3 linked regions of the Homo sapiens genome follow. The protein of the gene in region 1 purifies or fractionates together with the protein of each later gene. This does not show direct contact. Each region holds a gene or a part of one and is shown in the gene's direction. Other genes may lie near its edges. The genes, in order: ALPK2, ARRB1 and CSNK1G3.

Region 1 (3,757 bases):
GTGTGTGTGTGTGTGTGTATCTATATATGCACATATATAAACCTTCTGCTCTTTACATTTATTTTGCTAGGAGATGAATGTTGGGAGTTGAGGGAATTGGTTTTTCAAATTATTTCAGAGGAACAAAATTAAGTTTCATAGTGAATTTCAACTTTTCCATTTAATAACTCCCAGGCAACACTTCTTTCACAACCATATCACATTTATCTATTGCTTTGGGACATTCCTTCACTTTTGACTTTATTCTCTCTGTGGTGTGCGACAGCATTTGTTTATTCTTTATCATCACACTTTCCTCCTCTCTTCATTCCCAACTTGAAGTTATCTCCTCTTTCTTATCTGGAAAAGACCTTACATTGTGAAGACCTCAGCTTTCCATAAAGCCGACCATTTGCAAAGAGTTGGTAATTTCTGTGTTCTGTGGCATTTCACAGATGTGTTCCCCAGGAGATAGTCATTATTTTACAGTGCCTCAGCTTTAATATCTTTTTTCTCACATGAAGATAAAACTGAAAAACAGAACATATCACCCCTACATTTCTTAATATTTTATCGTTTTAGATGAGTTTTCATCTTGTGAAAAGTTGCATTCCATCAAGGGATAATGATGTACATTCTGTGCTGTGTAAAAACAATTTGCTTTTGAGGATTGCAGTGCCCTACACAGAGTGAATATTTACAGCTATGTCCCTTTCAAAGTCACCCCTGGAGCTGCTAATTTGAGCTGTCTCCACGAGTCTCAAAAGAGGTTTCTGTCTAAGCTGTCAATTTCCAGGTGTCATACATTAAAATATTTTTGGGGAGAGGCTAAGTAGTTACAGAATGATGCTAAAGGATTCTCTATGTTTTTGGACTTGGATAAACTTCAATAAAAGAATTGCCCATATTACAAAATCTACTTTCCCAACAAGAACCATTCCAGGCAATCTGAAGGAATAGGACCTGTGGTATTTCTTCTGTGGATTTCTTCTGATCTTTGTCTGTTCTCTTCTATCGTAGTCAAAATAGGAAGGGGTGTGTGTGTGTGTGTGTGTGTGTGTGTGTGTGAGAGAGAGAGAGAGAGAGACAGACAGACAGACAAGGGGTAAGGGGGGGTAAGCAGGGTGAGGAGGGTGGATCCTGCCTTCCTTCTGTGGCTTCTGCCTTTCTCAGAGAACTTCAGAGGATGGCTATAATGCCTGTTCTAAATGAACAACATATGACACATATTTTCACCTCCCCAACACCCCCTCCACGGGTTTCCTATGTGTACTTCAAATGCCTGATAACCTTGGTATGAGAACTGGTTGTGTTACTCCGGCCTTAATCCCTTTATCAGGCAGCAAGTTTTTCCTTTCCTAAGGAGCGAGCAACTAAGCCCAGGGTCCAGCATGGGCTTTGTAAAGAGCTGCTCGGTCTCCTGAGCAGCAGCCAGTGACAGCTCGTCTGGGTTTCATCAGCTCCCTGGGGCTGCATTTCACCAGGCCCCCTTGCCAGGGCCTCCCCAGCGTGTCGTGTCAACAAGTGTCGCACCTACTGCAGAAACAGCCCTCAAGTTTCATCACAGGGATGCTAAAATATATTCTCCAGCTTCAGCAATGACCTAGTTCACTGAAGGGCGGGGAAAAAATGCTCTTCTTCCAGAACTTCCCCGGGCATGGAATTTCCCCTCTTAGGAAGAGATGAACTTTCTGGAAGCAGACCCATCTATGCTTTGACCTGATCATGGAAGACCCTGAGCCCTATAAACTCCTTTGAATCCCTGTCCCGGGAACAGGGACACCCAATCAATGCCTCACACACAGCCTGGGGAATCCACAGCTGAGCCAGCCCTCCTACAACATTTCTTGGACAAAGAGTACTGAAAAGTAAGTATGTAGACTTTGGTTTTTACATAAGGAATGGCTGTGCTTTCAATATATAGTTGTTTACATTTTCTGCAACAAAGAACAAAGCAGATGGTTTCCTGATGAAATAGAATGAGATGAAACCAATAGGGATTATATGGGATATTTGGGCATATAAGGTTTTAAAGTGGGCAAACTCTCATGGTCTTGTAATTTAAGTCCATTTTGACCCTTTTTGAAAATTATTGCTATTTTTAAATTTGCTTATTTTGGCTTGACAATAATGAATGAAAACAGTTTCTTTCACATCATGTCTATCTTAACAGTTAGAAAAAATATACAGAATGACTCAAACGAGTGATATGTAAAGTTTTGCAAAGCAACATAAAAAGTCAACTATCCAGGTAACTCAGGCCCCAGAGACTTTTGTCTGAAATATTTGAGTATTTTAGTCAAGAGTTATTCCTTTTACTGTGAATTAACTGAATGATTGAAAATCTCTCCTATCTGGGTAGACACAGGAGTATATTGTCTGACAACAGGTAATGCAATTTGCTGAAAAGCTATCAGGCTTTTCAAAATGGCTGATGTAAACATTTATCGAGTTGTTAAATAGATTTAAAAAAAAATTTAAGGCAAAAAGTCAGCCAAAAAAAAATCCATCAATTAAATGCCACCACTGTCACATTACAATTTAATGAACACATCTAAACTTTAAAAGCCTTGATTAAGGGTGTCAGTTACAGACATTTGGCAATCATTTAAAAATAGATAAAAGCAAGAACGGCATTTAGAGCTGCTTCTGCTCTAATTATTTTCTTTCCACAACCTTTTCCTTAAGTAAAGGTAGCCTTTATTTCTAAAGATTAATTAACCAGGAATGGTCATTCCAGAGATATGTGATATGTTTTATAACTCTATATCAACTAAGGACAAATTGAAGGGGTTTTTTGCTGTGTGGCTTCTGAATTGAAACCAAGGATGTTGTGGGTTACCTTCCGAATCAACAACTTCACAAATCCTGTATTAAAAAGCATGGATGGCCAATAACCATGTTCAGATCTTGGAAATCAGGACTTAAAACAAACTAAATGAACTTTAGCTCCCAAATATACATTGTCCTTTTTTTGTTTTGTTTTGTTTGTTTGTTTTTTGTTTTTAGATAGAGTTTTGCTCTTGTTGCCCAGGCTGGAGTACAATGTCTCAGTCTCAGCTCACTGCAACCTCCGCCCCCTGGGTTCAAGCGATTCTCCTGCCTCAGCCTCCCAAAGTAGGTGGCATTACGGGTGCCTGCCACCATGCCCAGCTAATTTTTTTTGTATTTTTAGTTGAGATGGGGTTTCACCATGTTGGCCAGGCTGGTCTTGAACTCCTGACCTCAGGTGATCCACCCGCCTCGGCCTCCCAAAGTCTTGGGATTACAGGCGTGAGCCACCGCGCCTGGCCTACATTGTCTTTTTGATGTTTTTACCAAACATTTAATCATAATTTTGGGAAGCTTTTAGGTAGGGCAGAGTTCCTATTGTCATTACCTACAAAGTTTTTTTCTCCTCCAGTTTCATGAGTTTTTAACAGCCTCCTGAACACTTGTGTGTAGGTATCAGCCCCTGTGATGCGATGCAGTTGAGTTAGTATCTTACTCTGGATGGAGGTGGGAGAAGCAGGGGAGGTCCTGAGAAAGGCTTTGGAGTCAGATTTGGAATCGACTCCTAATTTTAGCATAACTTTTCAACCTGTTTGAACCCCAGTTTACTCATCTGTAAAATCTTAACAGTATTCACTTTAACAGGATTGATGGGGGATTAGATGAATAAATATACCTAAAGTATGTGTCGAATCATAGTTTCTCAATGAAAGTTAGTTTTTCACCTTAATTAAAAGCTTCTGTCTTTTTTTTTTTTGCTAAAACTTTAGAATACTACCATAAAATA
Region 2 (2,677 bases), on another chromosome or scaffold:
TGTCACATCTCCCATCTCTCAGACCCCACAGAGGCCAAGGGGCCTTGGCTCTGACCCAGGTTAAAGAGAGCCACCAGCCCCCAGGCTCAGGGAGCTGAAACCACCCATCCGCAGAAATCTAAGGGCAAGGAGAAATAGAAATTGTCTGTTCCTTCCCTTCAAAGTGTAAGGCCTCTTCCAGGAGCAACTGGAGCCACCACAGCTTCTCAGTGACATTGGGAGGGCTTCGGGCCCAGGAAAAACCCAAGCCTTTTGTCCTGAGAGCCGAGCCACAGCGGATGCAGTGGCGTCAGCATCCCAGAGCGGCAGCTTCTCTCCTGCCTGTCACTGGGGACTGGTTGCTCTCCACCCATCCAGGAGGAAGGGGTTAGGTCCCAGTCTTACACTCTTATAGGGTCTCATGGACATAGGCCTATGCCTGTTCTGATATCTATAATTTTTTAAACTCAAAAGGACCAAAACACTCCTGAACCCTCATCTATACGGCCTGCACTGGGCTTGGTGTTTCCTCCTGGCCCAGGCAGCTCCATCTCTTCTGCCATTCCTCCTGGACGAAAGTGGCAGGACCCCACCTCTACCACTTCCCCACAGGGTCACTGCACAGCGGCTTCAAAGACACGCCCTGTTGAAGGGGAAACATCCTCCCCCCATCACACTCCAACTCGTCACCCCAAAAGGGAAGTCAAAGCACAGGTCCGTGGGGCCTATGGTTTGTAGACACTGACACAGTGGTTTTCAAACCAGGTGCTGCGGAACCCCTGATATTCCACAGAGCTTTGTCAGGGGATGCTAAAGTGGGAAGATGGGAGTGGAGGCAAAGGATAGGTTTCCAGCCCTCCTCCCATTTCCGCCGCCACCAGAATAACTCTGCTTTTATCTGTCTTGCCTACTGAGATTTCATTTTCAAGCTTTCTTTGAAGAAGAACTTCAAACCACCATCTCGAGGTTTGATCTTAGACCAGCCAGCACAGGTTCTATTCTTGCTGTTCATGTTGGAATGGCTCCAGCGTTCCAGTACAAAGTGTCTTTGTGTTGGAACTTGGGTCACAGACCCAGGCACAAGCATTTATACACACACACACACACACACACACACACACACACACACACGTACATAGTTGATGGTTTTTCTAGCCAACCCACCCTGAAGCTCTGGCCAAGGTTTGATTTGGACAGGGACCTGGTGCTCAGTGGGGATGGGTCGTGACCCTGATATTGGCCCATGAAGCATGGGGAGCTCTGGAGCAAGGAAACAGGCTCAATCCCCCACTGAGGACTTGTGTCTGCACCCCTATCTGGCACCCCACTTTCCTGGCCTAGGCCCAAGGGACACAGCAGGAGAAGCAGTGTGATAGGAGAGAGGCTAGGGTTAAATTCATCTTTACACAGCGCCGGATGGATGGAAATCTTGGCTCACATAAAAGACAGACTCAGGGAGGATTTTATGACAAAAGTCCCTCCTTTGAGGGCAGGATTCCCCCAGGAATCCTGGACACTTTAGTGAGAACTGGACCAGCCCTTGGCACAAAACCCTGCCTGCCCTGTCCCCCACTCCCACCCCCCAGGGAATTCTAGGTGAAAATGTGAAGCTCAGGGCACAGCAAGCGCATGACACGGGTGTATTACATTCGGTCCGAGTGTGTCCTTAGTTTCCCTGTGTGCAAAATGGGGCTAGTCCAGGCTCTTCCCACCTCACTGGGACAATTGCAAGGGTCATAGGAGAGGTGGGTATGATAGGTGGTCATATGAGGTGGTGAGTATGAGAGGTGGGTGCCTCACAAACTCGGGGTATGGTCCTGACCTGCATGGCAGATGAGCAGAGCACTTGGGAACGAGCATAGGAAGTGCCATCTTCCCGGGCATCTCTGCTCAGTGTTAAGGTCTAGCCACAGACACTGTGGGACCTGCCTCTTCCTATGGAATGGGGGCCTGCATGGGTTGTGTCCTGGGGCAGGAGTGAGGGATGGCTGGGAAGAATCTCCAGGTCTGTGGCCCTTGTGTTGAGTGATTATTTTGTGACACTCTCATTCCTGGACCACCTGCCAGGTTTATCTGTTATACCTGTGGCATTCTTATTATGTCAGACAAGTTATTATAGTTCATTCAACTCTAACAAATGAACAAAAGAACAATAAATAGGAGGCCATTAAAGGTCTTTTGTGGCAGAGGATGCTGGCTGTGCTTTCATTTCTGTCTCATAAGCCCATGGCAGGTCAAAGACCAAGAAATGCCTCCCTGCTGCCCTGGACTGGCAGATGGGGCTCATGACTGGGTGAGGTGCTCTCTTCCCTTGTCTGTGGCCCCAGCTCCAGCCTGGTCCTTGTACCAACTTCTGGAGACTGCCAAAAACTTTTCTCCTGTCCCTCTTCTGCCACTTTTCAGCCTTATGGCCTTGGGAAGCTGGCATACCTCTCATCCCTCTCAGATACCACAGGATTTTGTGACCCATGGTTTGCTCCTGGGGTGAAGCCATCCTATCTTCTATCTTTGGCACCACTGACCACATCAGTGGGAGTCCTCACCCCAGCCCCAGCCCTGGTTCTTGTTCACTTCTTATCTCCTGCCCTGCTGGGTCTTCCTGAAGTCACTTCAGTTTTCAAAGACTTATGTGCCACCTGGTCTAACAGAACATATGGGAGGAGTAAGGATATCAGTGAGGAAGAGTCGATGTTCTAAT
Region 3 (3,657 bases), on another chromosome or scaffold:
GCAAGAGGAGATGGGACAAGCGTGTGTGATGTGTGTGTGTTTGCAGGGGGTGGTGATACATACACATTGGGGTGTATCAGAATCTCTGTTTCTGGGGAGGGCACCATGTATGCAGTTTGAATTTGTATCCATTCCTGCTATGATTACACTATCTTTTTTTGTTTGTTTGTTTTGTTTTGTTTTGTTTTTTTGAGAAGGAGTCTTGCTCTGTCGCCCAGGCTGGAGTGCAGTGGCGCAGTCCCGGCTCACTGCAATCTCCGCCTCCTGGGTTCAAGTGATTCTCCTACCTCAGCCTCCCGAGTAGCTGGGACTACAGTGATTACACTAGCTTACATTCCCACCTGCAGATGTTCTGCTGCCTCACTCATATTCATATCTGAGAAATACTTGTCTCATCCAAATCACTAATATTATAATAGATAAGTAAACTGAGGCCCACTTGAGAGGTTGAATGACAAGCTAGCCACACAGCTGATGAATATTAGGTTAGACTAAGAATGTAGTTTTCTTGGTTTTTAGTTCAGTGTTTTCTATTCTGTCCTGCAATGATTTATATTCAAAATAATAGGGTAAATAATAATAATGTTATATTTAAAAAACGTTTTATTAAAAAGAATGAGAAGTTTTCATTAGATTTGTTTTCTCTTTCAATATACTGAAAAAAAATCACTTGGAAGTAAAACTGAGACATTTGTGGTGGAAGAAGTTCATTTTTTCATGCTAATAGATAAATGCAGTGTTAAGTGTCAAACTAAATAATAGGGAGACTTGTCTAAAAGAAAATGATAGTTATTTACGAGTGGGCATTACAATGGGAATATATGTGAGTATATTCAGGGAGGTAAAGGAAGACAAGAGTTTTTAAAGGAAAAATGAGGAGGGTCACATAAGTTGTTTTGAGAGAGTTACCCTTGGCTACAAGGATCATTAACAAGAATGGCCTCAGTCTGAAGTTGGACAGGCAGTTCCTGGGCAGATGTCCTCACAGAGTAATTTTTTGTAAAGTTGTGGTGGCTTTTGTTCCAGGTTGTGGTTTTTGCAGTCTTTTGTGGTAGTTCTTCTTATCAGGCATATATATATATATGTGTGAGAACCCTCCCTTCATCTCCTTCCCTAGCTCTGTTTGTCAGGGTTTTAATACAAGTGACTCTGTTTTGATTCTGACAACTTCCATATAAAGTAAATTGATCACTTACATTTCAGTTTATTGGGAGTCTGTTAGTTCTGAAAATAAAATACAGATGACTTCATATTTGGAGTTTGTATTATTCAGACTTCATATTTGGAGTTTGTATTATTCTATATAGCTTCATAATGAATTATTACTATCTCTTACTGGCTTAAGATGAAAGACTTTATTATCTCACAATTTCTATGGGTCAGGAATACGGGCATGGCTTTGCTGGGTCTTCTGTTTAGAGTCTTACCATGTGGAAATTAAGGTGTAAGCCTGGACTGCAATCTTACATGAGCCTCAGTGCTCTCTTCCAAGTTCACTGATTCTTGTCAGAATTCAATTCCTCATGGCAATAGAACTGTGTGGCCCTTACTTCCTCAAGGATTCCTATCTGGCATGTGGCTCCCTCCACTGCATGGTGGTTTGCTACTTTAAGGCCAGCAGGAGAGTTTCTCTGCTGTTTCCAATATCTCTGACTTCTAGACTATCTTTTTAAAGTCTCACCTGAATAGGTCAGGTCCACCAGGATTCTCTTCCTTCTGATCAACTTACAGTCAACTGATAGGAGCCTTAATTACATTTGCCGTATAAGTTAGCCTGGTCACAATAGTGAGATCCCAGGAATCATGCTCACGTTCAAAGGGAGGGGTTTATACAAGGTGTATAAGCCAGAGGATGGGAATCTTGACAGTGGTGATCTTAGCAGTATGCCTATCACATGGTTATTAAAGCCAGTAGTGACTCTCTTTTCAGTAGAACTGGAATCTCTCCTATGTGCTAAGCCTTTCTCCAGGCCATGGAAATATAAAGCTAAAAAGCCCAGCTTTTGTCCAGTAATAAGGTGGTAGAGAGAAACAATGAAGTACTGTTTATAATGTAATTCAGTCATGCAGCTGCAATAGAGGTGTATCCAGGCTACAATGTGAACATCAAAGAGAAGGTATTGGGAGGTTGGGAGGTTTGGTCAGGAAAAGTATGTATCTGGAAAAAGTGATAGTACTGCTTTAGTTCTTGAAACTATAAAATTTTAAATATCAGTTTTTAAGAGGAAAACCTTAGTATTTAAGATGATGAAATTATTAAATGAGTATTTCTTTTCCCCCAGATGGTATACCTCAAGTTTACTATTTCGGCCCTTGTGGTAAATACAATGCTATGGTGCTGGAACTGCTGGGACCTAGTTTGGAAGACTTGTTTGACTTGTGTGACAGAACATTTTCTCTTAAAACAGTTCTCATGATAGCTATACAACTGGTAAGTAAAATAAGGTATTTGAAGTTGTTTGAACAATTACATGGTTGTTGGTCACAAATTCATATTAAAAGTTTAAAGTTCTGTGATATTGTCTTACAGAGCGTTTGACGTAATACAAATGTTTCTACTTTTCATGTTGTCTTTCTGGGATCCATGTAACTTAAAATAACTGAGTCAAGTATATTTTATTTGTATAAAAACTAATAATTGCTTTAAGATCAAAATGCTCAGTTTGCAAATTAAGTTGTTGCTAGCCATTTCTTCATATAAAAGATGATTACTTCAAAAGAGAACCCTCAGAAACATAGATTTTTTTTTTTTTTTTTGAGACGGAGTCTTGCTTTGTTGTCCAGGGCGGAGAGCGGTGGCGAGATCTTGGCTCACTGCAACCTCTGCCTCCCGGGTTCAAGCAATTCTCCTGCCTCAGCCTCCCGAGTAGCTGGGACAACAGGTGCATGCCACTACGCCCGACCAATTTTTTGTATTTTTTGTAGAGACAGGGTTTCACCATGTTAGTCAGGATGGTCTCGATCTCCTGACCTTGTGATCCGCCCGCCTTGGCCTTCCAAAGTTCTGGGATTACAGGCGTGAGCCACCGTGCCGGGCCAGAAACATGGATTCTTAATTTTGGTAATAGACTTTATGACCTGGAAAAACAAGAGGCAGACTAATGAGAGAGTCTTGATAAACTACTTAGACTTCAGGGAATCCGTTGGATAACAATTAGAGAGTGATTTTAAGGCAGTTTCGAAATAAATGCCAATAGAAGTGTGCTGCAGAAGTCTTAAAATTGTTTTTATTCATTGACTCATTAATTCTACAAATTTATCCTATGGATGTTTTCATAGGTACTTAAAGCTTTATATGAAAGGATGTTTATAATAAAAAAAGGAGAAGCAACCCAAATATGCAGAAATAACAGGGTTAGTTGAATAAATTAATATCCAGAGGAAAATATGCAGCTGTTAAAAAGTGCATATTAAAGATTGTTTTATAGGCTAGGTGTGGTGGCTTGTGCCTGTAATCCCAGCACTTTGGGGAGTCTGAGGCTAGAGGATCACTTGAGCCCAGGAGTTCAAGATCAATCTGGGCAACATAGTGTGACTCTGTCTCTACAAAAATAAAAATAAAAAAAAAAATAAGCCAGGTGTGGTGGTGTGCTTGTGTAGTCCCAACTGCTGAGGAGGTTGAGGCAAGAGGATTGCTTGAGCCCGGAGGTTAAAGGT

The links.
Region 2: the proteins of ALPK2 (region 1) and ARRB1 purify together in Homo sapiens (affinity purification with mass spectrometry; one large-scale study listed by BioGRID and IntAct). This does not show direct contact.
Region 3: the proteins of ALPK2 (region 1) and CSNK1G3 purify together in Homo sapiens (affinity purification with mass spectrometry; one large-scale study listed by BioGRID and IntAct). This does not show direct contact.

The regions. Positions count from the first base shown.
Region 1 is NC_000018.10:58,626,854-58,630,610, reverse strand, and holds the start of ALPK2 (alpha-protein kinase 2), read left to right. Parts: upstream 1-1,519; 5' UTR 1,520-1,847; intron 1,848-3,757.
Region 2 is NC_000011.10:75,259,615-75,262,291, reverse strand, and holds the end of ARRB1 (beta-arrestin-1), read left to right. Parts: 3' UTR 1-2,170; downstream 2,171-2,677. UniProt on the Homo sapiens protein: Functions in regulating agonist-mediated G-protein coupled receptor (GPCR) signaling by mediating both receptor desensitization and resensitization processes.
Region 3 is NC_000005.10:123,571,111-123,574,767, forward strand, and holds part of CSNK1G3 (casein kinase I isoform gamma-3), read left to right. Parts: intron 1-2,282; coding exon 2,283-2,431; intron 2,432-3,657. UniProt on the Homo sapiens protein: Serine/threonine-protein kinase. Casein kinases are operationally defined by their preferential utilization of acidic proteins such as caseins as substrates. It can phosphorylate a large number of proteins. Participates in Wnt signaling.